Linked DNA regions of Homo sapiens: all the other regions are reported to be linked to region 1. Evidence: microRNA targets listed by miRTarBase, many of them from high-throughput screens and not tested one by one. Region 1 holds a microRNA gene; each other region holds the end of a gene's coding sequence.

The links. The annotated mature microRNA hsa-miR-361-3p reads UCCCCCAGGUGUGAUUCUGAUUU and lies in region 1 at 1,720-1,742, opposite strand. An mRNA with a match to its seed (bases 2 to 7 or 8) in the 3' UTR can be bound and repressed. Matches are read on the target gene's strand: a 7mer-m8 pairs with bases 2 to 8, a 7mer-A1 pairs with bases 2 to 7 and ends in A, and an 8mer does both.
Region 2: the mRNA of DMPK is a reported target of hsa-miR-361-3p. Seed matches in the 3' UTR shown: 7mer-m8 at 3,355-3,361.
Region 3: miRTarBase lists NCAPD3 as a target of hsa-miR-361-3p. Seed matches in the 3' UTR shown: 7mer-A1 at 5,412-5,418 and 7mer-A1 at 5,257-5,263.
Region 4: miRTarBase lists VWA2 as a target of hsa-miR-361-3p. Seed matches in the 3' UTR shown: 7mer-A1 at 4,238-4,244.
Region 5: the mRNA of FBH1 is a reported target of hsa-miR-361-3p. Seed matches in the 3' UTR shown: 7mer-A1 at 4,430-4,436.

What each region holds. Positions count from the first base shown.
Region 1 is chrX:85,901,922-85,905,921 of GRCh38, forward strand. MIR361 (microRNA 361) reads right to left here and starts at 1,786; the gene lies at 1,715-1,786. The region is part of intron 9 of CHM (CHM Rab escort protein); the gene reads right to left.
Region 2 is chr19:45,766,938-45,773,561 of GRCh38, reverse strand. DMPK (DM1 protein kinase) reads left to right here. Exons shown (of 15, transcript NM_004409.5): 10 at 810-921; 11 at 1,634-1,791; 12 at 1,897-1,994; 13 at 2,166-2,212; 14 at 2,502-2,591; 15 at 2,922-3,845. The coding sequence ends at 3,074. SIX5 (SIX homeobox 5) reads left to right here and starts at 4,310. Exons shown (of 3, transcript NM_175875.5): 1 at 4,310-5,520; 2 at 6,407-6,624. The coding sequence starts at 4,718. DM1-AS (DM1 locus antisense RNA) reads right to left here and starts at 5,766. Exons shown (of 2, transcript NR_147193.1): 1 at 5,431-5,766; 2 at 1,679-2,072. RefSeq lists enhancers at 2,971-3,050, 3,491-3,600, 3,761-3,840, 5,332-5,891, 5,956-6,591 and 1 more and silencers at 2,421-2,930, 3,171-3,330, 3,855-4,039, 3,891-4,430, 4,791-5,010 and 1 more.
Region 3 is chr11:134,146,737-134,153,317 of GRCh38, forward strand. It overlaps NCAPD3 (non-SMC condensin II complex subunit D3), which reads right to left. Exons shown (of 35, transcript NM_015261.3): 33 at 6,553-6,581; 34 at 6,404-6,464; 35 at 3,377-6,316. The coding sequence ends at 6,208. It overlaps JAM3 (junctional adhesion molecule 3), which reads left to right. Exons shown (of 9, transcript NM_032801.5): 7 at 1,811-1,940; 8 at 2,028-2,082; 9 at 2,410-5,265. The coding sequence ends at 2,445. SNORD153 (small nucleolar RNA, C/D box 153) reads right to left here and starts at 4,627; the gene lies at 4,552-4,627.
Region 4 is chr10:114,289,506-114,296,129 of GRCh38, reverse strand. It overlaps VWA2 (von Willebrand factor A domain containing 2), which reads right to left. Exons shown (of 14, transcript NM_001272046.2): 13 at 5,765-5,890; 14 at 1,641-4,912. The coding sequence ends at 4,893. It overlaps AFAP1L2 (actin filament associated protein 1 like 2), which reads left to right. Exons shown (of 19, transcript NM_001001936.3): 19 at 62-1,306. The coding sequence ends at 88. Among named protein-coding and RNA genes, the nearest start is that of VWA2, 54 kb to the right of the region's middle.
Region 5 is chr10:5,935,311-5,941,934 of GRCh38, reverse strand. It overlaps FBH1 (F-box DNA helicase 1), which reads right to left. Exons shown (of 21, transcript NM_178150.3): 20 at 5,348-5,479; 21 at 4,342-4,825. The coding sequence ends at 4,655. LOC105376384 (a long non-coding RNA gene) reads left to right here. Exons shown (of 2, transcript NR_188180.1): 2 at 4,426-4,884. Among named protein-coding and RNA genes, the nearest start is that of IL15RA, 39 kb to the left of the region's middle.

The DNA.
Region 1 (4,000 bases):
GATGAAAATTAGAATCCATCTCCTTGCAGTGCCACAAGTTATAAATGTACTTTATAGGGCTCATTATCCAAACTAATGGACTAAGGGCAACATCCTTGAAATGGACTTACCAGCATTGACAAAGCCAGTATGCAATATTTCAGGAACTATATGCAAATGACTGTGTGTTTGCTATATCTTTTGATTATGGAAATATCAATTTATTTGTGTCACAGCTTCTCCTTTGGGGAACAGAATTATTTTATTAGAAATGAACTTATGTGTTGCCCCTCATAAGATGCAAGCAAATTAATTCCAAAAGCATACTGTAAAATATACTGGTATAAGTTAAAATCTGTTCATTCACTTTAAAAATAAGCCATATAAGTGATATTTTCCAGGAATAAAGGCATTAAAAATAAAATGACTAACACTCAAGACCAATAGTGAGAGGAATTTAATTTGTATTTCCTAAAGGCAGATTATAATATGCTGGTATTTTTTAATAAATGGCATCCCACTGTTGTAAGGATAGTCTATGATGTCTAGTGATGTTACATGTACATAATAGATATTTTAACCAATTAACCACCTTTTAATATAACATTTGTAATATTACGTTAATATTTACATGATTTTTTTCCATCTCATCTCCACCTTCTTTCTCTTCTACACTTCTGTTTCTATACATACCTCCTCATATTTCATTGAACTAGAGCTCTTGCCTTATAAAATACTTAAGAAAATAGATCTGAAGTATTTACATCTGATATTCTCCAAAATAATGTTTTAAAAACTGAAAATATAAGTAATTCACTCAGTCTTCTATTTTAAAACACTCATATACCATTTGAAACACAAAGTGCTTCAGGCAATTGAGAAGAGAAATCTGCTGTCATTAAACATCAATCTCTATTTGTCCTGTAAGCACTGACAAATCTTTTTCTTACCTTTAATTCAGAGACTATGTAAAGTCAAGAGGAAATAACTGGGCAGAAAAAAGGGGTTGTTAAATTTCTATATCTTGATAGGGGCTTAGGTTATACAGATTTATCATTTGTTAAAACTCAGTTAAGAAGCACTTAAGATTTGGACCCTTCACTGTATATAAATTTACATCAAAAGAAAAACACTTAACAAATATTGAGCTCCAGGTAATAATATGCAAGCTGGAAGTATTTAGGGGAAATTTTACTGACATCTGCAATTCACAGTCAAATGCATTAAAAAGATGACTCGATACATGGATAGAGGGGTTAATATTTGGGTAGACGTGTGACTGAACAAGTTTATTAAAATGTTATAGAATCCAGGAGGTGGATATACAGGTGTTCTCTTGAAATTCCTTCCATGTCAGTATAAGTTTGAAAATGTTCATCATAAAATGTTAAAATAAAACTGGGGGAGGGGGTCAGTGTTAATATAAATCTCAGACCTGAGTGTAAGTCTTTAAAAAGGGTTCCCATTTAAACTGTATTATTAAACCTGGCCCTCAAGCTTTGTAGGCTTCTAAACATGAACGAGGTTGTTTTGGTGGTAGCCATACCTTTGGTGACAGACATTTGTTTCAAAAGTTATGATATTAGAAAGAACTAATGGAGATCACTCAAAAGGCAAGTATGGGGGTTTGGGAGTTAGGGAGCTCAACCATACCAGGAGAAGATACTAATACATGTGCCTATTTATGCTGATGCTTCTAAAGAAACGGTGATTCTCAGAGCAGGAGGAGGAAAAGGAAGCAAATCAGAATCACACCTGGGGGACTTTTTGAAATTATAAAGTACCCCTGGAGATTCTGATAAGCTCCCAAATCCCAGGAAAAAAATCACTGTCAAGCGTGCCACTGCTACTGTTGTATCTCTTATGTTGTGCTAGGTGGAGAAAAATCAAGGGCTATTGGTACAGATAAAATATTTGTTTCTGCAGAAATTGAGGTGATGGTCACATATGCCCAAGTCTCAGTCTGGTAGATGATAATAACATGACTCACCTGATAATATCACGCTGAAGTACTAAGACTCTAGGCTTAAGCAAAACTGCTCAAATCAAGACATGTTTAAGCAAGTGATAAGATATGTTTTCCTCTCAGACATTTAACTTACTGTCATATATTCAGCATAATTGGGAAAACAATGAATAAAAAAACATTGATTTTAGATCTAAATTTAGTCTTTGTATTATAAAGATTCATATAAAAAATTAGATGACATTTAATTAACAGAAAGCAGCAAAATAAACAGTGCTGCCAGAGTCATGAAAATACCCCTCCCACATAAACCTGAGGAAGGCAGGAAAGATTAAACCACGTAAGATTTAGTTGAGGGCCTTGCTGAGCCTCATAAATAGTAACTTGAGGAGGAACGTAACAGGTGTCTCCAGTTACAGGGACACAATGACCAAGCTGACCATACAAAACACTCAAGCCAGACAGAACATTTCTAGAGCTAAGCTTTCTAAATCAACAAATCACAAGTTATTCAGTTATTGGTTCAACGATATAAGTGTGTAGATAGCAAAATGATGATGAGGAAGAAAATAGTAAGATGAAAACTCAAAATCTGGAATTTGGCCCAGAAGAGGAAAAATAACACTAAAACAAGTATTCAATCTCTGTGATCTTCAGAATGAATATACCAACTAATTTTATGATAAAGAAAGCAGAAATCACATATGGAATAATTTAAAGGAAAATGTACTAAGGAAATTAGAAGATTCTCAATCACTGAAGAAAACAAAATAATTTTCCCTAGTCACTATGCCCTTCTGAGCTTTCTCAAACACATTAGTTCAAATGCTACCTCATCCATAAAACCATTTCAAATGCTTCCCACTCATTTTTCTTGGGTGAAAAACACTCTACTAGTTCTAAACACCATTAGCAGGCAAATAACTTCAAATCTATAGTTTTAGGCTCTGACTTCTGTTAAGTTCTGTATCCATATTTGTAATTGTCTATTATCTACTACTTTCTGGATAGACTCCAAGCTCCCTTTTAATAAATACTTAATTGAAAAACAAAAATTGTATATAGTCAATGTGTATAATGTAATGACTTGATATACACTGTGTAATGATTACCACAAATGAATTAACACATCTATTGCCACCCATCATTACCATCTGTGGGTGTCATGAGGAACTTAATACCTGCTCTTACCAAATCTCAAGGAAATAATATAGTATTATTAGCCAAGCATTTTTTAAAACTAGCATGCTGCAAACTGAGTTTATCATGGCTCCTCACCTGCTCCCACTCCCTTGGAATCCCTATGTCAGGCAATGGCATAATCAGCAGTTTTCCTACCTCAAATCTCTTTTTATATCTAGTCTGCTATAACATTTTGATTCCGCTTTATAAATACTTCCTGAAACTAGCCTCTTCTCTCCGTCTCCACTGATACTGCCTTAGACTCTTACAATGTCTAATATGATAATGACCTGCTAGCAAATTGGTAGTTCATTTGTTCAACATAAATGTATAGCATAACAACCATGTGCCAAGCACTGTTCTAAGAGGTAAGAATAAAAATGTTTTGCCCTAAAGGACAAGATTCAGACAGAGACAATTTTTGAAGATTCAGGCAGAGACAATTTTAAGACAATAGCAAAGTCCAGTGATAAAAGATAAGGATAGGGAATTACACAGTACTAGAAGAGGTACCTAACTCATCTTATGGTGGAGGGGTGGAGTATCAGGGAATGCTCTTTGGAGGAAGTGACACATTTGTTGCTTTTAAAGGATAACATACAGTTAAGCAAGCAAATAAGGATACAGTTATCTCAGGTAGAAGGGCAGAATTTGCGGGGTTACAAAGGCAAGTAAGAGAACAGCAGGTACAGAGACCCATGAACAGATCAGTATTATGTGACAATAAAATGAAAAGCAAGTAGGGAAGAGAGATGAGCCTAGACAGGGAGACAGAGGCCAGATTACAGAGTCTCACCCGTCATATGTCATGTAAAAAGGTCTTACACTTTATTCTGAGATTATATAAAGGCACTGAAGCTTTTTAAATAAGGA
Region 2 (6,624 bases), not on the chromosome of region 1:
GGTCCCTGGCTCACACGTGTACTGACACATGTTTAAATAGTGGAGAACAGGTGTTTTTTTGGTTTGTTTTTTTCCCCTTCCTCATGCTACTTTGTCTAAGAGAACAGTTGGTTTTCTAGTCAGCTTTTATTACTGGACAACATTACACATACTATACCTTATCATTAATGAACTCCAGCTTGATTCTGAACCGCTGCGGGGCCTGAACGGTGGGTCAGGATTGAACCCATCCTCTATTAGAACCCAGGCGCATGTCCAGGATAGCTAGGTCCTGAGCCGTGTTCCCACAGGAGGGACTGCTGGGTTGGAGGGGACAGCCACTTCATACCCCAGGGAGGAGCTGTCCCCTTCCCACAGCTGAGTGGGGTGTGCTGACCTCAAGTTGCCATCTTGGGGTCCCATGCCCAGTCTTAGGACCACATCTGTGGAGGTGGCCAGAGCCAAGCAGTCTCCCCATCAGGTCGGCCTCCCTGTCCTGAGGCCCTGAGAAGAGGGGTCTGCAGCGGTCACATGTCAAGGGAGGAGATGAGCTGACCCTAGAACATGGGGGTCTGGACCCCAAGTCCCTGCAGAAGGTTTAGAAAGAGCAGCTCCCAGGGGCCCAAGGCCAGGAGAGGGGCAGGGCTTTTCCTAAGCAGAGGAGGGGCTATTGGCCTACCTGGGACTCTGTTCTCTTCGCTCTGCTGCTCCCCTTCCTCAAATCAGGAGGTCTTGGAAGCAGCTGCCCCTACCCACAGGCCAGAAGTTCTGGTTCTCCACCAGAGAATCAGCATTCTGTCTCCCTCCCCACTCCCTCCTCCTCTCCCCAGGGACAGTGAGGTCCCAGGCCCCACACCCATGGAACTGGAGGCCGAGCAGCTGCTTGAGCCACACGTGCAAGCGCCCAGCCTGGAGCCCTCGGTGTCCCCACAGGATGAAACAGTAAGTTGGTGGAGGGGAGGGGGTCCGTCAGGGACAATTGGGAGAGAAAAGGTGAGGGCTTCCCGGGTGGCGTGCACTGTAGAGCCCTCTAGGGACTTCCTGAACAGAAGCAGACAGAAACCACGGAGAGACGAGGTTACTTCAGACATGGGACGGTCTCTGTAGTTACAGTGGGGCATTAAGTAAGGGTGTGTGTGTTGCTGGGGATCTGAGAAGTCGATCTTTGAGCTGAGCGCTGGTGAAGGAGAAACAAGCCATGGAAGGAAAGGTGCCAAGTGGTCAGGCGAGAGCCTCCAGGGCAAAGGCCTTGGGCAGGTGGGAATCCTGATTTGTTCCTGAAAGGTAGTTTGGCTGAATCATTCCTGAGAAGGCTGGAGAGGCCAGCAGGAAACAAAACCCAGCAAGGCCTTTTGTCGTGAGGGCATTAGGGAGCTGGAGGGATTTTGAGCAGCAGAGGGACATAGGTTGTGTTAGTGTTTGAGCACCAGCCCTCTGGTCCCTGTGTAGATTTAGAGGACCAGACTCAGGGATGGGGCTGAGGGAGGTAGGGAAGGGAGGGGGCTTGGATCATTGCAGGAGCTATGGGGATTCCAGAAATGTTGAGGGGACGGAGGAGTAGGGGATAAACAAGGATTCCTAGCCTGGAACCAGTGCCCAAGTCCTGAGTCTTCCAGGAGCCACAGGCAGCCTTAAGCCTGGTCCCCATACACAGGCTGAAGTGGCAGTTCCAGCGGCTGTCCCTGCGGCAGAGGCTGAGGCCGAGGTGACGCTGCGGGAGCTCCAGGAAGCCCTGGAGGAGGAGGTGCTCACCCGGCAGAGCCTGAGCCGGGAGATGGAGGCCATCCGCACGGACAACCAGAACTTCGCCAGGTCGGGATCGGGGCCGGGGCCGGGGCCGGGATGCGGGCCGGTGGCAACCCTTGGCATCCCCTCTCGTCCGGCCCGGACGGACTCACCGTCCTTACCTCCCCACAGTCAACTACGCGAGGCAGAGGCTCGGAACCGGGACCTAGAGGCACACGTCCGGCAGTTGCAGGAGCGGATGGAGTTGCTGCAGGCAGAGGGAGCCACAGGTGAGTCCCTCATGTGTCCCCTTCCCCGGAGGACCGGGAGGAGGTGGGCCGTCTGCTCCGCGGGGCGTGTATAGACACCTGGAGGAGGGAAGGGACCCACGCTGGGGCACGCCGCGCCACCGCCCTCCTTCGCCCCTCCACGCGCCCTATGCCTCTTTCTTCTCCTTCCAGCTGTCACGGGGGTCCCCAGTCCCCGGGCCACGGATCCACCTTCCCATGTAAGACCCCTCTCTTTCCCCTGCCTCAGACCTGCTGCCCATTCTGCAGATCCCCTCCCTGGCTCCTGGTCTCCCCGTCCAGATATAGGGCTCACCCTACGTCTTTGCGACTTTAGAGGGCAGAAGCCCTTTATTCAGCCCCAGATCTCCCTCCGTTCAGGCCTCACCAGATTCCCTCCGGGATCTCCCTAGATAACCTCCCCAACCTCGATTCCCCTCGCTGTCTCTCGCCCCACCGCTGAGGGCTGGGCTGGGCTCCGATCGGGTCACCTGTCCCTTCTCTCTCCAGCTAGATGGCCCCCCGGCCGTGGCTGTGGGCCAGTGCCCGCTGGTGGGGCCAGGCCCCATGCACCGCCGCCACCTGCTGCTCCCTGCCAGGGTACGTCCGGCTGCCCACGCCCCCCTCCGCCGTCGCGCCCCGCGCTCCACCCGCCCCTTGCCACCCGCTTAGCTGCGCATTTGCGGGGCTGGGCCCACGGCAGGAGGGCGGATCTTCGGGCAGCCAATCAACACAGGCCGCTAGGAAGCAGCCAATGACGAGTTCGGACGGGATTCGAGGCGTGCGAGTGGACTAACAACAGCTGTAGGCTGTTGGGGCGGGGGCGGGGCGCAGGGAAGAGTGCGGGCCCACCTATGGGCGTAGGCGGGGCGAGTCCCAGGAGCCAATCAGAGGCCCATGCCGGGTGTTGACCTCGCCCTCTCCCCGCAGGTCCCTAGGCCTGGCCTATCGGAGGCGCTTTCCCTGCTCCTGTTCGCCGTTGTTCTGTCTCGTGCCGCCGCCCTGGGCTGCATTGGGTTGGTGGCCCACGCCGGCCAACTCACCGCAGTCTGGCGCCGCCCAGGAGCCGCCCGCGCTCCCTGAACCCTAGAACTGTCTTCGACTCCGGGGCCCCGTTGGAAGACTGAGTGCCCGGGGCACGGCACAGAAGCCGCGCCCACCGCCTGCCAGTTCACAACCGCTCCGAGCGTGGGTCTCCGCCCAGCTCCAGTCCTGTGATCCGGGCCCGCCCCCTAGCGGCCGGGGAGGGAGGGGCCGGGTCCGCGGCCGGCGAACGGGGCTCGAAGGGTCCTTGTAGCCGGGAATGCTGCTGCTGCTGCTGCTGCTGCTGCTGCTGCTGCTGCTGCTGCTGCTGCTGCTGCTGCTGGGGGGATCACAGACCATTTCTTTCTTTCGGCCAGGCTGAGGCCCTGACGTGGATGGGCAAACTGCAGGCCTGGGAAGGCAGCAAGCCGGGCCGTCCGTGTTCCATCCTCCACGCACCCCCACCTATCGTTGGTTCGCAAAGTGCAAAGCTTTCTTGTGCATGACGCCCTGCTCTGGGGAGCGTCTGGCGCGATCTCTGCCTGCTTACTCGGGAAATTTGCTTTTGCCAAACCCGCTTTTTCGGGGATCCCGCGCCCCCCTCCTCACTTGCGCTGCTCTCGGAGCCCCAGCCGGCTCCGCCCGCTTCGGCGGTTTGGATATTTATTGACCTCGTCCTCCGACTCGCTGACAGGCTACAGGACCCCCAACAACCCCAATCCACGTTTTGGATGCACTGAGACCCCGACATTCCTCGGTATTTATTGTCTGTCCCCACCTAGGACCCCCACCCCCGACCCTCGCGAATAAAAGGCCCTCCATCTGCCCAAAGCTCTGGACTCCACAGTGTCCGCGGTTTGCGTTGTGGGCCGGAGGCTCCGCAGCGGGCCAATCCGGAGGCGTGTGGAGGCGGCCGAAGGTCTGGGAGGAGCTAGCGGGATGCGAAGCGGCCGAATCAGGGTTGGGGGAGGAAAAGCCACGGGGCGGGGCTTTGGCGTCCGGCCAATAGGAGGGCGAGCGGGCCACCCGGAGGCACCGCCCCCGCCCAGCTGTGGCCCAGCTGTGCCACCGAGCGTCGAGAAGAGGGGGCTGGGCTGGCAGCGCGCGCGGCCATCCTCCTTCCACTGCGCCTGCGCACGCCACGCGCATCCGCTCCTGGGACGCAAGCTCGAGAAAAGTTGCTGCAAACTTTCTAGCCCGTTCCCCGCCCCTCCTCCCGGCCAGACCCGCCCCCCCTGCGGAGCCGGGAATTCCGAGGGGCGGAGCGCAGGCCGAGATGGGGAATGTGGGGGCCTGCAGAGGACCCTGGAGACGGAGGCGTGCAGAAGCTCAGTCTCGGGGCGGAGGCTTCGCGCCCTTAGTCCTCCTGGACGGCCCGTTACCTTCTGCGTTGTCCCGATGGGGAAACTGAGGCCCTGAGCCAGAAGCACACGCTGGGGGGAGGCAGAAAGCGCGGCCAGAGGCGGAGGGAAAACAAAGGGAGAATCACAGACAGACGGGAGGGGGACGGACACACACAAGGGGACAGAGACCCGAGTGGAGAGCTGGATCTCGCCTTCCCGGCGTGGGGCGCAGGGTCGGCCAGAAAGAAGATCGAGAAGAGCGGGGAGTGGGGGCGAAAAGGGGGGACAGGTGGGGGAGGAGGCTGGGGAAAGCCCGAGGGAGGAAGAGAGGGAGGGAGGAACTTCCCAAAGTTGCAAAACATGGCTACCTTGCCTGCGGAGCCGAGCGCGGGGCCGGCGGCTGGGGGGGAGGCGGTGGCGGCGGCGGCGGCGACCGAAGAGGAGGAGGAGGAAGCGCGCCAGCTCTTGCAGACTTTGCAGGCGGCCGAGGGTGAGGCGGCGGCGGCGGCCGGGGCCGGGGCGGGCGCAGCGGCTGCGGGAGCTGAGGGCCCGGGATCCCCGGGCGTCCCCGGGTCGCCCCCCGAGGCCGCTTCCGAACCGCCCACGGGCCTCCGCTTCTCGCCCGAGCAGGTGGCGTGCGTCTGCGAGGCGCTGCTCCAGGCGGGCCACGCCGGCCGCTTGAGCCGCTTCCTGGGCGCACTGCCCCCGGCCGAGCGCCTACGTGGCAGCGACCCGGTGTTGCGCGCGCGGGCCCTGGTGGCCTTCCAGCGGGGCGAGTACGCCGAGCTCTACCGGCTACTCGAGAGCCGCCCCTTCCCCGCCGCCCACCACGCCTTCCTGCAGGACCTCTACCTGCGCGCGCGCTACCATGAGGCCGAGCGGGCCCGCGGCCGCGCGCTTGGCGCAGTGGACAAGTATCGACTGCGCAAGAAGTTCCCGCTGCCCAAGACCATCTGGGACGGCGAGGAGACAGTCTACTGCTTCAAGGAGCGCTCCCGCGCAGCGCTCAAGGCCTGCTACCGCGGCAACCGCTACCCCACGCCGGACGAGAAGCGCCGCCTGGCCACACTCACCGGCCTGTCGCTCACGCAGGTCAGCAACTGGTTCAAGAACCGGCGACAGCGCGACCGGACCGGGGCCGGAGGCGGCGCGCCCTGCAAGAGGTGAGGGGCCTCGGGCGGCGCAAGTCCAGCTCTCCCGGGGACATCCCGTCCACCAGCCCTCTTCCCCCGTGCCCACTGCTGGGGCCGGCGCGCCGAGGTCCTCGGACATCTCCCGGGACCAGCTCACAATCTCAGGCGCCCGCGGGGCGCGGGGACTAAGTGTGGACGGGACAGGCACCCGCCCGGGCCCTCTCCCCGCACGCGTCTCCTCTTCCAGCGGCTCCATTCCGAGCTCCTTCCCAAATCCCATCGGTGTTGGGGAATCACACTGCGGGGGGCACTAGAGGGACTGAGGAAAAAGGACAGGGCCTGTGGCCACTCCACTCCGCGTAGGGGCTGCCTCCCAGCCCCCTTTCTTCACTGACCGTTACTCTTACCCACCCGCCCCCACACTCCCTCCGGGCCCGGACGGCGTGGTCCGTCTTCTGCCTTTGTTGTGAAACGTGAACCTTTCCCAGCTCCGGTTTCCCTGTAACCCAAACCCTTCTCCTCCCACCCTGAGCGCCGGCCTCTCCCTTCTCTGACGCCCCGCGGGGAGGGCACCGGGAACTGGGCTGGCGGCTGCTGCTCCCTCTCTCCAGGCCACTCGCCCGCTTTCCGCCCAACCAAGGAACTTTTAGGGCAACCTGGGAGCTCAGCCTCTGGGGACCCGAGGCCGAGGTGGGGGAGAGCAAGGGCCTCTTCCCTCCCCAGCGCTTCTCTGCAGTGGTGTCCACGCAGGGCTTGCAAAAGGCCCTGGAGTTTGGAGTGGTCTCAGAGAGGCGTCATAACCCCTGGAATGATCCACCGAAACTTGGGCCAGGGAAAGGTGGGGGAGCAGCTGGCTGGCTATGCGGGAGGCCCCACAGGCTAAGGGACCCCAGCTGACAGCCATTTCTCCGGCCAGCGAGTCTGATGGGAATCCCACGACTGAGGACGAGTCCAGCCGAAGTCCTGAGGACCTGGAGAGAGGGGCGGCCCCAGTGTCCGCCGAGGCCGCTGCCCAGGGCTCCATATTCCTGGCAGGGACCGGCCCTCCCGCGCCTTGCCCGGCTTCCTCCTCCATCCTGGTGAACGGGAGCTTCCTGGCAGCCAGCGGCTCCCCAGCAGTGCTCCTCAACGGGG
Region 3 (6,581 bases), not on the chromosome of region 1:
TTATTTTTTGTAGATACGGGGTCTCACTGTGTTGCCCAGGCTGGTCTCAAACTCCTGGCCTCAAGCAATCCTCCTGCCTCGGCCTCCCCCAGGTGCTGGGATTAACAGGCATGAGCCACTGTGCCCAGCCAGGAGCATTTTTTGAATCCTTCCCTCCTCCCTATTTGGAGCTCTCCTCAGAGCAGCATTTTCCAAAACTGCCTGGTGATACCCATTTGGGACCACTGTTTCACATACAGATTCGAGCCCACCTCAGACATATGCTAGAAATGTCTGTGTGTGAGACAAGCGTTCCGAAGGATTCTTCTCATGTGTCACGTTTGAGAAACTCTGCTCTAGGGTTGTTTTCTCCTGCAGTTTTGCCCCAGACCTACTTTAGCCTATTGACTTTTTAGTGATGAAACTTGGGAATTGACATTTTAACATCAAAATTGCATGCCAGGCGTGGTGGCTCACACTATAATCCTAGCACTCTGGGAGGCTGAGGCGGGTGGATCACCTGAGGTCAGGAGTTCAAGACCAGCCTGGCCAACATGCCAAAACTCTGTGTCTACTAAAAATACAAAAATTAGCCTGGTGTGGTGGCAGGCGCCTGTAGTCCCAGTAACTTGGGAGGCTGAGGCAGAAGGATCCCTTGAACCCGGGAGGCGGAGCTTGCAGTGAGCCGAGATTGCACCACAGAACTCCAGCCTGGGTGACGGTGACGGAGCAAGACTCTGTCTCAAAAAAAAAAAAAAAAAAACGATTGCAAGTTTACTTTTTGTTTTTGAGATGGAGTCTCGCTCTGTCACCCAGGCTGGAGTGCAGTGGCACAATCTCGGCTCACTGCAAGCTCCGCCTCCCGGGTTCACACCTTTCTCCTGCCTCAGCCTCCTGAGTAGCTGGGACTACAGGCACCTGCCAACACGCTCAGCCAATTTTTTGTGTTTCTAGTAGAGACGGGGTTTCACCACCTTAGCCAGGATGGTCTCGAATCTCTGACCTCGTGATCTGCCCACCTCGGCCTCCCAAAGTGCTGGGATTACAGGCGTGAGCCACCGCGCCCGGCCTGCAAGTTGATTTTTAAGTGTACATTCATCTTTGAGAACCAATACACTAGGATAAAGGAGATTTTTTTAAAACTTCCAAGTTACTTGGCTCTTGTTGATAAATTCCCTGCATAGTTTTCCATGTGTCGCTTGCTTGAAGGAACGGCTGCCAGAGCCCCATATGAAAGTGACCCAGTGCCTTTGCCCAGTGTATAGACATGAGAAAAGGGTTCCAGGGGGTTTCCTCTCAGAGGGCTTATAGATCGGAGGTCAGGCAGCCGGCAGAGACAAAGCTCTAGTTCTTACCTAGGATTCTTTACTTGTTTGTTTTTTGAGACAGATTCTTTAAGGCTTGAAGCTACCTTTCTTCCCCGCAGCAATCTGCAACAAAGGGAGGCCCTGGAAATTAGGGATTCTTTTCTTCTTGGGATCCTGGCTCCTAATCTTGTCCTCATAACCATTTCCTCCATAAGTAATCTCAGGCATTCAGCCAGAGGATTTTTAAGCCTACAGTGCCAAGCCCACTTTAATACACTTTTCAGTGCGACTGCATTTCAACTGTAGAAGTCTCAGTACTTTTCACGTGTGAAGTTAGGAGTTATGGTGTCCTATATGTTCTAGGCTAGAAGGATTGTAAGTGTTCTCTCTTCTAGCTGGGGTAGGCCTGAGGGGGCAGGGGGCAAGTGGGTTTGGGGTGAAGGAAGGAGGCACAGCAGGGCCAGGGCCTTTTTAAATAACAGATAGTGTGTATCATGGCTTCCACCAAACCTCCTTTTCTTCAGATGACCTGAACATTGGCGGAATTATTGGGGGGGTTCTGGTTGTCCTTGCTGTACTGGCCCTGATCACGTTGGGCATCTGCTGTGCATACAGACGTGGCTACTTCATCAACAATAAACAGGATGGAGAAAGGTGAGCCTGCCTTATGTGAAAAAAGGGAAGTTCAAGCTGGCAATAATATAACAACCCTGTTGCTAAACTGCTCTCTTCTCCTCATAGTTACAAGAACCCAGGGAAACCAGATGGAGTTAACTACATCCGCACTGACGAGGAGGTAATCATTTAGTAAACCTGGAAACCTAGGTGTACCCAGCAGGGAAAACAACATTCCCCCTTGGAAACCACACGGGTCTCCTGGGAAGATTTCTGAGTGATTGTGCAGCTCCTGAGCTCCTCAGCCCCTTCACAGTAACACACACACACACACACACACACACACACACACACACACTAATGGGATTTGTGCTTTGCAAGCGCTAGTGATGGTACTTTTTAAGAATGATTATTCCATCTGTATTTAGCCCATGTTAGACTTACTCCGTGTTTTTCCCTGCTTGCCACCAGGCCCCTTGATGGCTCTAACTGTGTGTTGGCTTTGCAGGGCGACTTCAGACACAAGTCATCGTTTGTGATCTGAGACCCGCGGTGTGGCTGAGAGCGCACAGAGCGCACGTGCACATACCTCTGCTAGAAACTCCTGTCAAGGCAGCGAGAGCTGATGCACTCGGACAGAGCTAGACACTCATTCAGAAGCTTTTCGTTTTGGCCAAAGTTGACCACTACTCTTCTTACTCTAACAAGCCACATGAATAGAAGAATTTTCCTCAAGATGGACCCGGTAAATATAACCACAAGGAAGCGAAACTGGGTGCGTTCACTGAGTTGGGTTCCTAATCTGTTTCTGGCCTGATTCCCGCATGAGTATTAGGGTGATCTTAAAGAGTTTGCTCACGTAAACGCCCGTGCTGGGCCCTGTGAAGCCAGCATGTTCACCACTGGTCGTTCAGCAGCCACGACAGCACCATGTGAGATGGCGAGGTGGCTGGACAGCACCAGCAGCGCATCCCGGCGGGAACCCAGAAAAGGCTTCTTACACAGCAGCCTTACTTCATCGGCCCACAGACACCACCGCAGTTTCTTCTTAAAGGCTCTGCTGATCGGTGTTGCAGTGTCCATTGTGGAGAAGCTTTTTGGATCAGCATTTTGTAAAAACAACCAAAATCAGGAAGGTAAATTGGTTGCTGGAAGAGGGATCTTGCCTGAGGAACCCTGCTTGTCCAACAGGGTGTCAGGATTTAAGGAAAACCTTCGTCTTAGGCTAAGTCTGAAATGGTACTGAAATATGCTTTTCTATGGGTCTTGTTTATTTTATAAAATTTTACATCTAAATTTTTGCTAAGGATGTATTTTGATTATTGAAAAGAAAATTTCTATTTAAACTGTAAATATATTGTCATACAATGTTAAATAACCTATTTTTTTAAAAAAGTTCAACTTAAGGTAGAAGTTCCAAGCTACTAGTGTTAAATTGGAAAATATCAATAATTAAGAGTATTTTACCCAAGGAATCCTCTCATGGAAGTTTACTGTGATGTTCCTTTTCTCACACAAGTTTTAGCCTTTTTCACAAGGGAACTCATACTGTCTACACATCAGACCATAGTTGCTTAGGAAACCTTTAAAAATTCCAGTTAAGCAATGTTGAAATCAGTTTGCATCTCTTCAAAAGAAACCTCTCAGGTTAGCTTTGAACTGCCTCTTCCTGAGATGACTAGGACAGTCTGTACCCAGAGGCCACCCAGAAGCCCTCAGATGTACATACACAGATGCCAGTCAGCTCCTGGGGTTGCGCCAGGCGCCCCCGCTCTAGCTCACTGTTGCCTCGCTGTCTGCCAGGAGGCCCTGCCATCCTTGGGCCCTGGCAGTGGCTGTGTCCCAGTGAGCTTTACTCACGTGGCCCTTGCTTCATCCAGCACAGCTCTCAGGTGGGCACTGCAGGGACACTGGTGTCTTCCATGTAGCGTCCCAGCTTTGGGCTCCTGTAACAGACCTCTTTTTGGTTATGGATGGCTCACAAAATAGGGCCCCCAATGCTATTTTTTTTTTTTAAGTTTGTTTAATTATTTGTTAAGATTGTCTAAGGCCAAAGGCAATTGCGAAATCAAGTCTGTCAAGTACAATAACATTTTTAAAAGAAAATGGATCCCACTGTTCCTCTTTGCCACAGAGAAAGCACCCAGACGCCACAGGCTCTGTCGCATTTCAAAACAAACCATGATGGAGTGGCGGCCAGTCCAGCCTTTTAAAGAACGTCAGGTGGAGCAGCCAGGTGAAAGGCCTGGCGGGGAGGAAAGTGAAACGCCTGAATCAAAAGCAGTTTTCTAATTTTGACTTTAAATTTTTCATCCGCCGGAGACACTGCTCCCATTTGTGGGGGGACATTAGCAACATCACTCAGAAGCCTGTGTTCTTCAAGAGCAGGTGTTCTCAGCCTCACATGCCCTGCCGTGCTGGACTCAGGACTGAAGTGCTGTAAAGCAAGGAGCTGCTGAGAAGGAGCACTCCACTGTGTGCCTGGAGAATGGCTCTCACTACTCACCTTGTCTTTCAGCTTCCAGTGTCTTGGGTTTTTTATACTTTGACAGCTTTTTTTTAATTGCATACATGAGACTGTGTTGACTTTTTTTAGTTATGTGAAACACTTTGCCGCAGGCCGCCTGGCAGAGGCAGGAAATGCTCCAGCAGTGGCTCAGTGCTCCCTGGTGTCTGCTGCATGGCATCCTGGATGCTTAGCATGCAAGTTCCCTCCATCATTGCCACCTTGGTAGAGAGGGATGGCTCCCCACCCTCAGCGTTGGGGATTCACGCTCCAGCCTCCTTCTTGGTTGTCATAGTGATAGGGTAGCCTTATTGCCCCCTCTTCTTATACCCTAAAACCTTCTACACTAGTGCCATGGGAACCAGGTCTGAAAAAGTAGAGAGAAGTGAAAGTAGAGTCTGGGAAGTAGCTGCCTATAACTGAGACTAGACGGAAAAGGAATACTCGTGTATTTTAAGATATGAATGTGACTCAAGACTCGAGGCCGATACGAGGCTGTGATTCTGCCTTTGGATGGATGTTGCTGTACACAGATGCTACAGACTTGTACTAACACACCGTAATTTGGCATTTGTTTAACCTCATTTATAAAAGCTTCAAAAAAACCCAAACATTGCTTCATTCTTTGTTATTTGCTCTTACGTTGGGTTTGTCTCTTCTTCCTAGCATTTCAGTGGTTAGGCATGCACACTAAAAATGCTATCAATCACCCATCCACCAGGGAAGTCAGTGCTGGGCAGGAGGTCAGCCTGTGTGCTCAAGAGCAGTGCTGCGCCTCTCCGCCACCGAGCCCACCTGTGTTGCGGTTCCCACTTGGGATGGCAGTGGGCAGATCTCAGTGGCATCCCATCCCCCAAACCAACCAACGCACATCATCACTTTGTACTTTTGCTTTTGTAATACTGGGATTAAAAAACAAACCAACTGCATTTCTTTCTGGATATTGTTGAACAAAAATAGCATTCAGTTTACCCACTAGTGCTAACAGAAGAGACTCAAGCTGTTCCCCCATCATGGGAGCAGCCCTTAACAGAGGGCTGCACAAATCGGCAGTGCTGCTCTGGGGAAGGCTGCAAAGCCATTTTTTCCCAAGAAGGGATGCTGTTCATGTCTGTTAGGGAAAGCACACCGCCTCTGCCTGGGCACAGATGAACTGCCCTTCAAGACAATCATCTTTTTTCTAATAGGGAAGATTTGGTTTCATTCCTCTAACAAACAAACATGCTTTATGTAAAATTAAAATGATTACCAATAAGAGCTCTGTTCTAAAAACAGAAAAATCCTATTGACTACTGGAAGGCTGTATTTATGCTAAACCTTTATTACTTTTAGAAAGCTGTACACTTTTTTAAAAAATTTGCACTTATAAATAATAGAAAAAATATTAGAATCAAAATTTCGTCATTACAGATGGGAAAATATGTACTATAAGGAATTCAAGTTAACAGAGGCTTGATTTATATAAAAGAAAGCTGCAGTTTTAAAGTTGTGTTCCTTAAAGACCAGATTATAGCTTATCTGAATGGGCTTGACACTTTCAAATGGAATAAAGTTACAATATTAAACAGATTAGGGTAAGAAAATCTAAATCTGGCACATCTCTATTATTTGACAGTGTTTAACCAAATACATCATACAGAATAGAAGGTGAGTGCCAGGCCCCTGAGGAGGAGCTCTCGTGTTCCACAGCAAAGCGCTGCCCAAGGACTGCGGGAAGTGATCCAGCTGCCTTCACACGGAGGACACGAGACTGCTTCCTCAAGGGCTCCTGCCTGCCTGGACACTGGTGGGAGGCGCTGTTTAGTTGGCTGTTTTCAGAGGGGTCTTTCGGAGGGACCTCCTGCTGCAGGCTGGAGTGTCTTTATTCCTGGCGGGAGACCGCACATTCCACTGCTGAGGCTGTGGGGGCCTAGGGAAAGGACATGTGCAGTCATTCTGGAACTCAGAAAAACCCTGACAGAAACATCCACCTCAAAAGGAACACTGCTAAACTTACGGTTTATCAGGCAGTGATAAACATAAGATGTCATTTCCTTGACTCCGGCCTTCAATTTTCTCTAAAAGGGAGTCAAACAAACACATTCAGCTTTCCCAGAACCTCAAAGGCAGTGCATCTATCAGCCCAGAAGGACACCAAGAACTTGCCTTTGGCTGACGACGGAGTCCGTGGTGTC
Region 4 (6,624 bases), not on the chromosome of region 1:
AGTGGATAACTAACTATCTTTTTGGTGGGGGGTGGGTGCTGGTATTTGAATGGTACCCTAGGAATGGGAGAAGAAAGGAGCAAGTTAGAAAACAAGCTTCATCTAAAGACTCTCATGTCAATGTGGACCTTGGTGACAATCCTGCTTTGTTAAAGCAAAAACTATGCGAAAGGGTGAGTCTGTTTAGAAGAAAAAGCAAAGACTGAGGTACTGTGAATGGAGAGCTTCAGCTAAGAGGAGGCTCTGTCCCTTTTCAGAGCCAAAGGAAATAATACAACAAAAAGGAGGCTTCTTTGGAGACCTAAGTCTATTGGATGTAAACAAGACGTTGTATTTAGGGATGTTCTGTGTTTCTTTCTTTTTTGAAGTTGTCATCAATTGCTTTACTAAGATTTTTAAATAGTGAAAACCTCCTGTTTAGACTTTGGTGGAAGATGAATCAAGGAAGCAGGGCCCTGTCTTATGGGTCACGTGTCTTTGGTGAGTGAGAAGACCTAAACTCCTGGCCATCATCTCTTATCCAATACTTAGCAGTTGGGGATTAAACCATCCTTGCCTTCAGTTCTCTCCAATATTACCAGGCCCAACTCAGTCTTCAGTGATTTTAAACAGCATTGACATCATCTGTAAAACCATCATCTGTAAAACCATCTATGACATGAGTTTTGAGAAACAATAATGGGGAAAATATTTGGGACCAAGCTGAAGCACTAATCCCACTAAGTTAAAGACTTCTTTCCAGTCCAAGGCAGGCCTGAATCAACTGTCTTTAAATAAAATTTTAAGTGATGCTGTATTATATATAGGAAAAAATGCTTAAAATCCTGTCATTTAGAACAGTGAAAAGTATCTTTTGAGATTAAAGTGACTCTTTACTGTAGGAAAAATATTACTCTGTGTTTACAGATTCATTGCTGTGGTCAGGCCATTTTTAAGGGAAGAGTTATTTAATATAAATAGTCTCTGATTTTAAGTTCTGTTTAATGTTCATTCTCCTTCCAAGAACAAAGTGGTGATTTTTGGTTAGGGTGATCGCCCTCTTAAAATTGGCAGTGCTGTTCCTTGTGCTGCCCCTGTCTTTTCCTCTGATGGCATTTTTTTTTTTTTTTTTTTAACACAGGTTGAAACATTTCATCTATTATCTCTGCCTCATTTCTGGAGGGTTGTGTATCAGTTCTCTAACACTTGTTCCTGAGAACTAAATGTCTTTTTTATTCTTATTTCCTCTCTCATAAACATTTGGTGACCTTTTACCAAGTGGTGAGTTAGTTAGGTTTTTTAAAATAAAATGTTCATTGTATTTGAAGTTTTCCTCAGTTCATGAAATGACTTGGGGCAGGGCCTGGGGGGTTCTCAAGGGAGGAAATGTTTTGGTTATTTACACACTGAACTACAAGATGGGATCCTAGCAGGAAACTCAGCCTCCTTGAATCAAAGAGCATAGATAAGGCTGAAAGCAAATTTTAGTTGTACAGTTAACAACATACCAAAGACACAGGAAACATCTGCAGAAATTGATCATATATAAGTGAATGAAAAATCAGTACTCCTCCCAGAAGTTAAATATACTCCTAAAGAATTCTTGGGAAAAAAGAAACATACCAATACTGGGAAGGTTGCCTAAGTAGTAATTAAGGAAGTTTATAGCATAAATGTGTTTATTTTAAAAATGACAAAATCAAAATCGGGTTCATTAAAGAGACAAATAGACAACCTAAGGCAATATGAAATAGCAGAACTGAAATGGAGGCCTTAATACAGATACTGACAAGATTTTTCAAATTATAAAAAAATACTATGAATATATCAGTGTAAAAGTTTGAGAAATATGTATTTTCCATTATAAGGTTAGTATAGCTCTGATACCAAAAATTCAAAACAAATTGCAAAAGAAAACAAATCTCATTGTTGGACACAGATTAAAAGAATCTGAAATAAGATGTTGGCAAATGAAAAATTCAGCAGGGTTTATAGAATGATGCATAATGACCAAATAGAGTTTATCCAAAAAAATCAAGGGTTGTTCAATGATTGAAAATACACAAATGGATAACCTATCACATTAACAGATAATACAAAAAATGCATTATCTTGAGGAAGAAAAAGCATACCATAAATCTCAACATGTAATAAACACTCTTAGTTCATCTAGGAATTAAGCATTCTTAAACTGATAAGTAACCCATAGAAAACAATTATTATGATGAAAAAGTCAAGAACCAGATATGGATACATGCTACTTCATGAAACATTATTCTGGAGGTCCCAGGCAATGCAAAATGACAAGAAAAAGAAGTGGTATACAACTTTGAAAGGAAGAGACAAAACTAGCATCATTTGGAAATATTTCTCTAGAAAAGCAAGAGTCAATTATTAGAACTAGGGTATTCAACAAGATGACTGGAATCAGGATCGTTCAGAGAAAATAAGGAAATTTATGGCCTATATGCAATGTTTTAATTATTGCAAGGAAAATATATTTCTGTCTTATTTGAATAAGTAATTAAAGGTAAAAATTAAAGCTAATTTCTTTTAAATGAAAGAAAAAAGGCTTGGCTAGTTAGGCCATAGGATAGCACTTTCCTGGGGGACTGACAAAAGCTGAACTATTTAGTGGCACTGTCACTACAAAAGGGGAAAAAATGTTTCAAAGGCGAGAAACCCATTTCCTACAAAGAAACAGTAAAGGCCCTTACTATGTAAGTCGAGAGCCCACAGTTTGCTGTTTAAATCCAAGTAATTCAATCAGGGCACCCAAATACCAGCCCGGAACAAGACAAAAAGCCTACATTATAACATGGTTAAACTGCTATTTAAAGACAATGCATTCATGTAATTTCTATGACATCACTGATCAGCATCTGCTAGGGAGCATGTGATCCTGCCCCGGACGTTGTCTTCTGTGAAGGGCAGCATAATAACAAAGTTATCAATGAAAGTATCCCTTGAATATAGATGATTATGACTCAATGTCTGGTACACCAGACTTTTTAATATCTAAAATCTTGGTGATACTGCTTCAAGCGCTTTTCTAGCACCAGAAATCCTGAAGTTCTTAAAGCCAAAGTACCCTTGAATGTTTGTCTATAAAACATTATGTTACAATATTTATAAAGAAAAATGGGCCAGGCACAGTGGTTCACCCCTGTAATCCCAGAACTTTGGGAGGCCAAGGCAGGGGGATCACCTGAGGTCAGAAGTTCGAGACTAGCCTGGCCAACATGGTGAAACCCTGTCTCTAACTAAAAATACAAAAATTAGCTAGGCATGGTGGCACCTGCCTCTAATCCCAGCTACTCAAGAGGCTGAGGCATGAGAATCACTTCAACCTGGGAGGCAAAGGTTGCAGTGAGCCAAGATTGTACCACTGCACTCTAGCCTGGGCAACAAGAGCAAAACTCCGTCTCAAAAAAAAGAAAAACGATAAAGTGTCTGGAGTCACATCAGAGCTCTAGAAAGATTTCTACAGAAAATCCAACTCTAAACAACACAACCAAGGAGAAGAAGTAATTCCTAAATACTGCAGCGATAGGGAAGTAAGTATCTAGTTTGCCAGAGAATATTCCAAATATGCCTCTTTGCCACATAGGTACAAATATCCCTGTTTAATAAATAACCAACATTTCTTGAAATATTTCTTTAAAAACTGTGTAGAAAAGCAAAGCAAAACAAAATTAAAACCTAGACAGCGTAAGATCAATGCTTTAAAAAGCAAAATCTCTGTAAGTTTCTTTATCCTATATTTTTGAGTTTAAGAATCTTACTTCTCTTTGCCCCACTAAAAGGAGAATAAGGAAAGAATTCCATAAACACGCCACAATTAACCCCTCCTAAGTACATTTTTTTCTTTTTGAGACAGATTTTTACTCTTGTTGCCCAGGCTGGAGTGCAGTGGTGAGATCTCGGCTCACTGTAACTTCCGCCTCCCAGGTTCAAGCCATTCTCCTGTCTCAGCCTCCCGAGTAGCTGGGATTATAGGCATCCACCACCACCCCCGGCTACCTTTTGTATTTTTAGTAAAGACAAACTTTCACCACGTTGGCCAGGCTGGTCTCAAACTCCTGACCTCGGGTGATCCACCTGCCTCAGCCTCCAAAGTGCTGGGATTACAGGCATGAGCCACAGTCTCTGGCCGCAGCCTCTTTTGAAAGGAAGACCCTTCAGGTGGACACTGCTCACGACTCAGAACGATTTTACGTGGCCCCTCCAGACCTGGGCCCATTGCACACTCAGCCCCTCCCCCATCATCAAACAAGCTGGTTAATTGGTCACATTTCAGTCTGAGACCTTTCCAAGTCTCTTCCACACACAAAAGGCAGTCGCCAGAAGTCACAAACGTCCCTCAAGCCCCCTTTCAGACTCAATGCAAATGCATCCAGAATGTCTCTGGGGAAGTGGAAAAGCTGCTGCTTTCCATCTTGAAAGGCCGTGGCCTTCGCCGTCCAAAGGATGCTCTAGTAAAGGCCTCTGCTGGGCATTACTGTGTCAACAACATTCTGGCGAGCATTGATTGTGTGCAAAGGAACGTCAGGCCGCTAAATTTAAGTCTTCAGGACCCCTTGTTTATCCTCAAGGGAAAGGTGGCAGATGACATAGCCTCAACAAGGCACAGCAGGTACAGAAAGTGGGTATTTACTTACACATCAAAACTTTTCAACAACATCGTTTGTGGGTGACATCAGCTGCTTTCTTGTCTCTAAGCAGCATGGCTGCAGTTGGGACATCCTCCTCCCTCAGTGAGAATAGTGGTCCTGGCCACGGCGGGAAGCAGACATTCTAAGGACCTGGGGCACAGACATTCCAGAAGGTAGGCACCATTTCAGTGCCCAGGCCTTCTCTGTAGTTGCTGGGAGGGGTACGGCTGCTGCCCTCCTGCACGGGAGCCATGTGCCTCAGGGGCGTCTCAAGAATCCTGGGGAAGGAAGTGAAGTCTGAGGACAGGAGTGTCTGCATCCCCTTCTCAGCCCTCCAGCAGCCTCTGAGGACCCCTTCAGGTCCTGCTCTTACTCTACAACCCACCTCGCCCCCAGCAGAAGATGCCAGATTAGAGACCCCATGTGATTATCCTCCAGAGCTTCTCTCTGGCCTTAGGAAGCCAACCTCTGCCCGTGGCCAAAAAACCAAGGCTCCGACTGGACTTGTCTTCTGATTTCTGGCTGTTCTAACTTCAAACTCATGAACAGGAGCCATAGTTGGACCTCTAATGCCTCCCAACGATCACTCTCTAGGTCCTAATCTGTTACCCTTGACAATGACTTCTTTTCTCTCAAACCTCTAGCACCTCCTCCTCGTCCTCACTTAGCTGTTCCTCCCATTTTACTGAGCAAATAGCACCCCAAAAAGAGCTTCCAGCAGCTCCCACCACCGCATTTACCCATCCCTGCCTCCGTCTACATCCCTGTACCCTGGATCTACTGTGCTCCTAACTGTGGCCTCCCTCCTAGTTGTCATGACTTTCTCCGGGGTGCTTAGCACCGTCTACCACACCACATGTTGTATTATTTGCTTATTGTCTGTCTTCCCATTAGAATGGAAGCTCCATGAGGGCAGAGGTTTTATTCATTTGTTTACTGCTATGTTCCTGCACTGAGAACAATGCCTGGGATGCAGGAGGTACTCACTAAATGTTTCGTGGGTAAACGACTGAATAATTTCTTCCACTGAACGAATGTTTTAGAACCTGCCTTCAGCTGAGTTTGTGGGACTTGGCAGGACTCGCAATACCATCCCTGGCTCACACATACAGAGCAAGAGCTCCACTCACGGTTCTCGCAGTGGGGGCCCTCCCAGCCATCCCGACACTTGCAGCGGTAGCTCCCATTCTGCAGGACGCAGCTGCCCTCATTCATGCACGGGCTGGGTTTGCAGAGGTTGACTGGCTGCTTGGCTTCTACAATGGAGAACACCATACCCACCAGGCCGGCCAGGCATGGGTTAGACCCGAAGACCCCTACCCTAAGTAAGCCCAGTAGAGGTGCAAGGCTACTAGAGTCATGTCTCCCTTTGCCCCGGTAGCTCATGGTTGGTGCTGCATACCACTTGGCTAGGTTAGTAAGACCCAGCTCTCCTACAGACTCATGGAGAGTCCATTGCTCAGACGTGCCATACACATGGCAGACTTTTTTTTTTTTTTTTTTGAGGCAGAATCTTGCTCTTGTTGCCCAGGCTGGAGTACAATGGCGCGATCTTGGCTCACCACAACCTCCACCTCCCGGGTTCAAGTGATTCTCCTGTCTCTTTTAAGAAGGTGAAGAGGAGGTCACTGGATTTGGGCTGGCCTGGCCCTGTTTGCTCTGGGCTCTGTCACTGCCCAAGTCAGTGTGAATGTGGGATCTTTAGACCCTTAGGAAGCTTGTGGATATTCTAAAAGTGTGTTCTGTTTAAAGGGAATGCATAAATTCTCAAGTTTGGGGGGAGTTATCTATGTTAGTTAAACTTTCTGTACCTTAAATGTCAAATAGGATGGTTATGCCTACTGTAGGATTTTATGTGAGCATGGGGTTTAGCACAGAACCTGGCACTTGGGAAGCAAGTGCTCAGTAGCTGGGAAGAGCTGCCATCCTCGTCATGATGTATGTGAAGGCTCAGGCTGAGGGCCTGCCATGGGGGCAGCCCTGAGGGTGT
Region 5 (6,624 bases), not on the chromosome of region 1:
CAAGGATCAGACTTGAAAAACATGTTAAATTGCTAATAGTCTGATTCTAGGGGTGTCAAAGTCCCTTTGTGATACAGTGAGTTGCTCCCAGACACAGACCAAATGCCACTACAGGACGGAAGCTGGGCAGGCAGCGTGACAGTGACCAGCTTCCCAGGCAGGAAGGTCCCACGGGGGTGCTGCACTGCCTTAAGTTTATTAAGCTGTGTCTGAGTCCACCATGCGACGTCTCTGCCCTCATGCCTGGGCTGCTAAAGGAAAAATACCAGCTAAAAGGATGGTGTTTGATGTCAACTGGGAGGGTGCTGCCCGGCACACCTGTGTTTTCCGTCACCTTCCACTCCATTCCCTTCTATGTCCATCCCAAACGCTAAACCCAGCACTTTGGGAGACTGAGGCAGGTGGACAGCTTGAGCCCAGGAGTTTCAGACCAGCCTGGGCAACAGAGCGACACCTCATCTCTACAAAAAATAAGCAAAAATTAGCCGGGCATGGTGGCATGCACCTGTAGTCCCAGCTACTTGAGGGGCTGAGGTGGGAGGGTCACCTGGGCCTGGAGGTCAAGGCTACAGTGAACTGTCACTGCACCACTGCACTCCAGCCTGAGTGACAGAGTAAGACCCTGTCTCAAAAAAACCAGAAAATTATTGGGTGAGAGCAACCTAAACTTCCTCCCTAACCACTTACAACGTACCCCTTTCTCCTTCATCTCTCCCGTCCCAATCCCTCTCATCTGGCTTCCATCTCTCCTCTCTGAATTTGCTTCCTCTCAACACATAACCCTGCACAAACCTCTCTCGTTTTAAAAGCAAAAACCCCTCCCTAAGGCCACGTCATCCCCTATCCACTTCTTGCCTCTTGCCAGCCTTGCTTTCTGAGAACTAGTCTACGTGGTGTCCGTATCTTCACCTCCCACTGGTATTTTATGGTTCTATCATACAGACACATAGTTTAGAGCCAACAGTTATGTAAGACACCTACCAAAAAGCTCCTCCACCTGCCCGTTCCCCCTCCCAAAAGGAAACTTTTAGAAATCTTTCTGCTGAGTGTCTCGGTGTGTGTTATGCATCTCCAAGATATCTCTAAATGATGGGCTCACATGGGCTTCTGCTTCCATGTTTGAGTTTCAGGCACTGTGACTGACTTCCTGCCGCAGAGGCTAAGATTCGGCTCGTTCACTCCACATGTGCACACAGCTCCTACCTGCAGAACACGCCCACCCTTATGAAGGCCATGAAAGCAGGTACACTCCACTGAGCTGGTGGTGGGGGGGGTCAATTACAGTTCTCTCCTACACAACCTGTCGCCTTCCAGAGGACTAATCATTGCCTTTTTCCCCCCAGGCTACGTCCTGCGCTCTGTCACCCAGGCTGTGGTGGTCAGTGGTGCAATCATGGCTCACAGCAGCCTCAACCTCCCAGGCTCAAGCCATCCTCCTGCCCCAGCCTCCCAAGTAGCTGGGAACAAGGCATGCGCCACCACACCTAATTTTTTATACTTTTTGTAGAGATGGGGTCTGCCTATGTGGCCCAGGTTGGTCTTGAACTCCTGGGCTCAAACAATCCTCCCACCTCAGCTTCCCAAAGTGCTGTGATCACAGGTGTGAGCCACCACGCCCGGCCAATGTGGGCCTATTTTCACCCATTGTCCTGGGCATTTAATGAGTCATTTCAATCCAGAAACCCTTACCATCAGTTTCAGGTAATTTTCATAATTAAAAAAAATGTTTCGGCCAGGTGCGGTGGCTCACGCCTGTAATCCCAGCACTTTGGGAGGCCGAGGTGGGCAGATCACGAGGTCAGAAAATCGAGACCATCCTGGCCAACACAGTGAAACCCCATCTCTACTAAAAATACAAAAAATTAGCCGGGCATGGTGGCATGTGCCTGTAGTCCCAGCTACTCAAGAGGCTGAGGCATGAGAATCGCTTGAACCCAGGAGGTGGAGGTTGCAGTGAGCCGAGATCAAGTCACTGCACTCCAGCCTGGGCAGCAGAGAGAGACTCCGTCTGAAAAAAAATTAAATTTAAAAATTCCTTAACTCTGTTGTCCATTTTCTCTTCCTGCAATTCCCATTCACAGATGCTCAACTTCTTAAATTGGTTCCCTAGTTTTTTTTTTCTTTTTTTTTTTTTTTTGAGACAGGCTCTCGCTGTGTCACCCAGGCTGGAGTGTGGTGGCACAATCTCAGCTCACTGCAACCTCCACCTCCCGGGCTCAAGCCATTCTCCAGCCTCAGCCTCCTGAGTAGCTGGGATCACAATCGTGCACCACCACACCCAGGTCATTTTTTGTAGATGGGTTTTGCCATGTTGGCCAGGCTGGTCTTGAAGTCCTGAGCTCAAAGCGATCCACCTGACTCAGCCTTCCAAAGTGCTGGGATTACAGGCATGAGCCACCACGTCCAGCCTCTAACTACTTCTCAATCTTTGTTTTTGCTCTACTTTCTAGATTCTCAACTTATTATTTTAACAGTTCTACTGGGTTTCTTTTCATATTTTTTGCTCCAAAATTTTATTTTATTTTTATTTTTTGAGACGAAGTCTTACTCTGCGTCCCAGGTTCAAGAGATCCTCCTGCCTCAGCCTCCTGAGTAGCTGGGATTACAGGCACATACCACTACACCCGGCTAATTTTTGTATTTTTAGTACAGGGTTTCACCATGTTGGCCCAGGCTGGTCTCGAAATCCTGATCTCAGATGATCCACCCGCCTCAGCCTCCCAAAGTGCTGGGATTACAGGCGTGAGCCAATGCGCCCGGCCCCAAATATTATTTTATACATATCTATCCTGCTACTCTATGGAATGCACTACCTCCTCCATTCTCTGAATGTGTTAAAGATATTTAGATGTTTTCTTCTCCCTGTACAGACAGTTTGCTCCAAGTTGATTCTTTGGTTTTGACCTCTAGCCTTCATCTTAGGGGCCGGGTCATCTTCAGATGTTTGATGATCCTGATGCCTCCAGGATCACTGCTGCCTCCTTCCTGTTGTCTTTGCCCTTAAGGGTTAAAACACACACACACATACACACACACACAACTTTTACTGCCCTTACAGTATGGCTTCAGAAAGAAACCATAAATGAACACATACTTCTTAGCCCTCAAATTTTTCACTCACATTTTAGGCCACAGTGGTCGGCTTCTCACCTAACTGAAACTGATCAGCTAATGTCAACTGACCTTGATAGTGCTGGTTAAACACCTGCCCACCCTTGTTTATTTGGTCTATTTACTGCACTGGATGCTGAAGATCCCCTTTTCCTGAACTCCCTCCTCTCCGGAGCTCAGTGGTGCTCCATCACGAGGCTCCTCTGGATCAGCTGTCGCTCTTCTTAAACCCTCTTCCTCTCTTCACCCCAAGCCTCGTGTCCGCCGGCTTTGCTTCTCGGCCCTCTGCTCTTCTCATTGTCTAAACTCTCCTGGATTAACTCGGCGAAACCCTTCAAACTGCACCACCACCTACACACCGACAACTCTATAAAGTCCCCAGGTCCAGCCAGGCCCTTTGCTGCAGGACAGATGTGTTCACCCAACAGCCTCCTAGACGGTTCCACTCAACATGCTGAAAACCAAACTGATCACTGCGTTTACACAAACCTGCTATAGCTCCCATTTTCCCTGTCTCAGTGAAGATGACCTCTACCACTGAGTGTCCCTATCATGATCCCAGTACTCCAGAAATCCGACCGATTCTACCTTCTAAACATCAAGAGCAGAAGTTTCCCAACTTAGCATGCATGAGCATCACTTGTCAGGCTTGTTATGTACGAACAGCTGGGCCTCAACCCTGGAGTTTCTGATCCTGTAGGCCTGGTGTGGGGACTGAACATTTTTATTTCTAACAAGTTCCCAGGTGATGTTGCCGCTGCTTGCTGGAACCACACTTTGAGAACCACTGATCTTCGCATCCGTTCCCTCCTCACCAGGCCCCACAGGCGCTGTGGTCCAGCCCATCTGGGGTCATTTCTTGCTGAGATTATGATCCTGTTAGCCTTGTAATTTATCTGACCTCCTTAAAACATTATTGTTATTTGAGACAGTGTCCCGCTGTCACCCAGGCTGGAGTACAGTGAGCTGTGAGGTGACCACGGCTCACAGCCTCAACCTTGGGCTCCAGCAGTCCTCCTGCCTTGGCTGGATTCAGTGCTGGGGTTACAGGTGTGAGCCACTGCTCCCGGCCAAAGTCTCATTTTTGATGCCTCAGTTCCCACCCAAGACATCACGTCTCATACTCTGCTTCCTGTGTCTTGTGAACAGTGACAGTGCTGTAGGAAAGAGTAAGCTGGAAAAAGAGAAGGTTCAGAACGACAGTGCTGACGCAGACATCACACAGCGGTATGCCAGTGCTATGGTGCCTGTTTAATTGAAATCTTGTAATAAAAGTTTAAATACATAAATTTTTTTTTTTTTTTTTATCAAAAGAACATCCCCCACTTCCCTGACCAGATACATCCAGAGGGGAGGCAAGTGGAGACTGGCTGTCTGTAGGGAGTGGAGAAATGGCAGGTCCAGCTTGGGCTGGTGTCCTCTTCCTCAGAAAGTGCTGTGGGTGAACCCAGAGTCTCAGGGAGCAGAAGCCCCCCTCGCTGGCTTTCTTCACGCGGGGTCCTCGGCAAGCTGCTCTGCACTGCGGAGAACGTGCGCCTTGTCCTCAGAAGACGAGGAAGAGCAGGGCCTCATGCCGGGGCAGTACGATGTTCTCCACAGTGCGCTCCATGGCGCGCACCTGCTCCGGGGAGGCTGTCAGGAACGCCAGGGGCCCGATGCGCTGCTCCGCACAGGAGTGGCAGAGGTAGCCCCCCTTGTTTTCCTTCCTGTTGCTCTGTGGTGATGGACAAGAGAGAGAGCTAAGGGGAACAACCAAAGAACATGGATTTTCCAGCAAAAAGCATGGAGTTATCATCACAGCTGCCCAGGGACAACGCATTTGGATTCTGATGTTTTCAGAGGGGTGCACATCCTCAGAGTAACACCTCCCACAGCACCACCAACTAGGTGGCCTCAACACCCCCAAATTCCCTGAGCTCAGAAACAGTCATTTATCCAGTCAAGATAAAGAACCAAGAAAAGCTGCGCTGGGACCCCAGGGAACAGCTCTCTCTCTAAGCGTGTATCACAACCCAGCCTCCCAGACCTGCGGCTTCAGCACAGCCAGGCAGCATCACGTGCCCTGACCTCTGACCCTGGGACAGACCACACACCTCTTGTGCCTCTCATATGAAAAGCCCCTAATAAAGGATCACACAGCTCTCTCTTATCTCCTCACCTACAACCCAGATAAGCACAGAGCTCACAAGCAAAAAATGCAAATGGCTGAATTAAGTTCCACAGACAGCAGACGTACATAGGTGATGGGCAGCTTCTTCATGGTAAGGACGGTGTCAACAGGGATGGCATTGTTGCACTGTCCCACGCAGCAGCGCACCACGCCTGTTTTTAAGACGTTGCTTGTCAGCTCTGCTTGCAAGAAGTACTCCTGAGAAAGAAAGAGCGAGAAAGAGAGTCATGGCGACACCTCCGTTAGGGTCTACTGGAAACACTGATAGCGGCGGCTCTGTGAGAACCCTTTAGATGCACTGTAAGTCCCAGAGAGAAAAACCCCGCCTAACCCGTTCTCCCTTACTTCCTCTAACTTTTCCCTGCCTCCAAAGCTATCGACAGTCCAACTGACAGTCCAATTGCTTTTTAAATATATATATATTTAACAGATAAACATGCAAAACTATTGCCTGTAATGACATTTCCAGAATATTTCTGGATTTTATTTTATGCTAAGGTATCCCCAGCTCAATCTTCAGAAAACTATTGTGTATTCACATTATAAGCCAGGCAGGCAACACAGAGGACATGAAGAAAACTTGCCCCAAACATCCCTGCGTATTTCCACCGTCCCGTGCTGCTGGCTGTGCTAGTGAGCAAATGACAGCCTCGCTAAGCCTGTGTCTTTATCCATAAATGCAGATGGCACGGTGCCTGCTTCAGGTGGCTGCTGAGGAGAAGAAACCCTTCAATGCATGCAAAGCACTCACGCCTGGCACGCAGGGAGCACCCAGAGGAAGCACTAGTGACCTCCCAGGCTGGAAACACCACAAGGACAGGGCACTGTCAGCTTCGCTGCTGCCCTGTGGGGCTCCACATCACAGACTGATATGCTAGCAGGACCGCACACATCTGCTGCCCAGGAAAGGACGGTTTCGTATTTTCTGGATTATGACCAGCTATTGATCTACTTATTCTACAATCTGTAACCTACGTTTTGATTTATTTGGTCTTTTCTCTTAGACGGCCTGCCTACCAGCTATGAAAAAGAACAGAAAACCACCAGGCAAACACTCCAGTTATGGCCAACAAGTACTAACAGCTGACGAGGTGAAATCCTGTCTGAAGTCACAGATTTTGCTGAAGTCCCTTGGACTGTCATCTCAATTTCCTTCCCGAGAGACAGCCAAGACCATGAACCTGGCGAGGTCCCTCCAACCCACGGTGAAATAGCTTCTCGTTTACACGTGTCCAAGGACACAGGTCTCCTTTTATAGATGTCTAATTTACATGAATGTTACGCTTCTGGCTTCCTCCTCACCTAGGTTTTCTAAAATGCTGTAGAGGACTCAGTCACAGCGC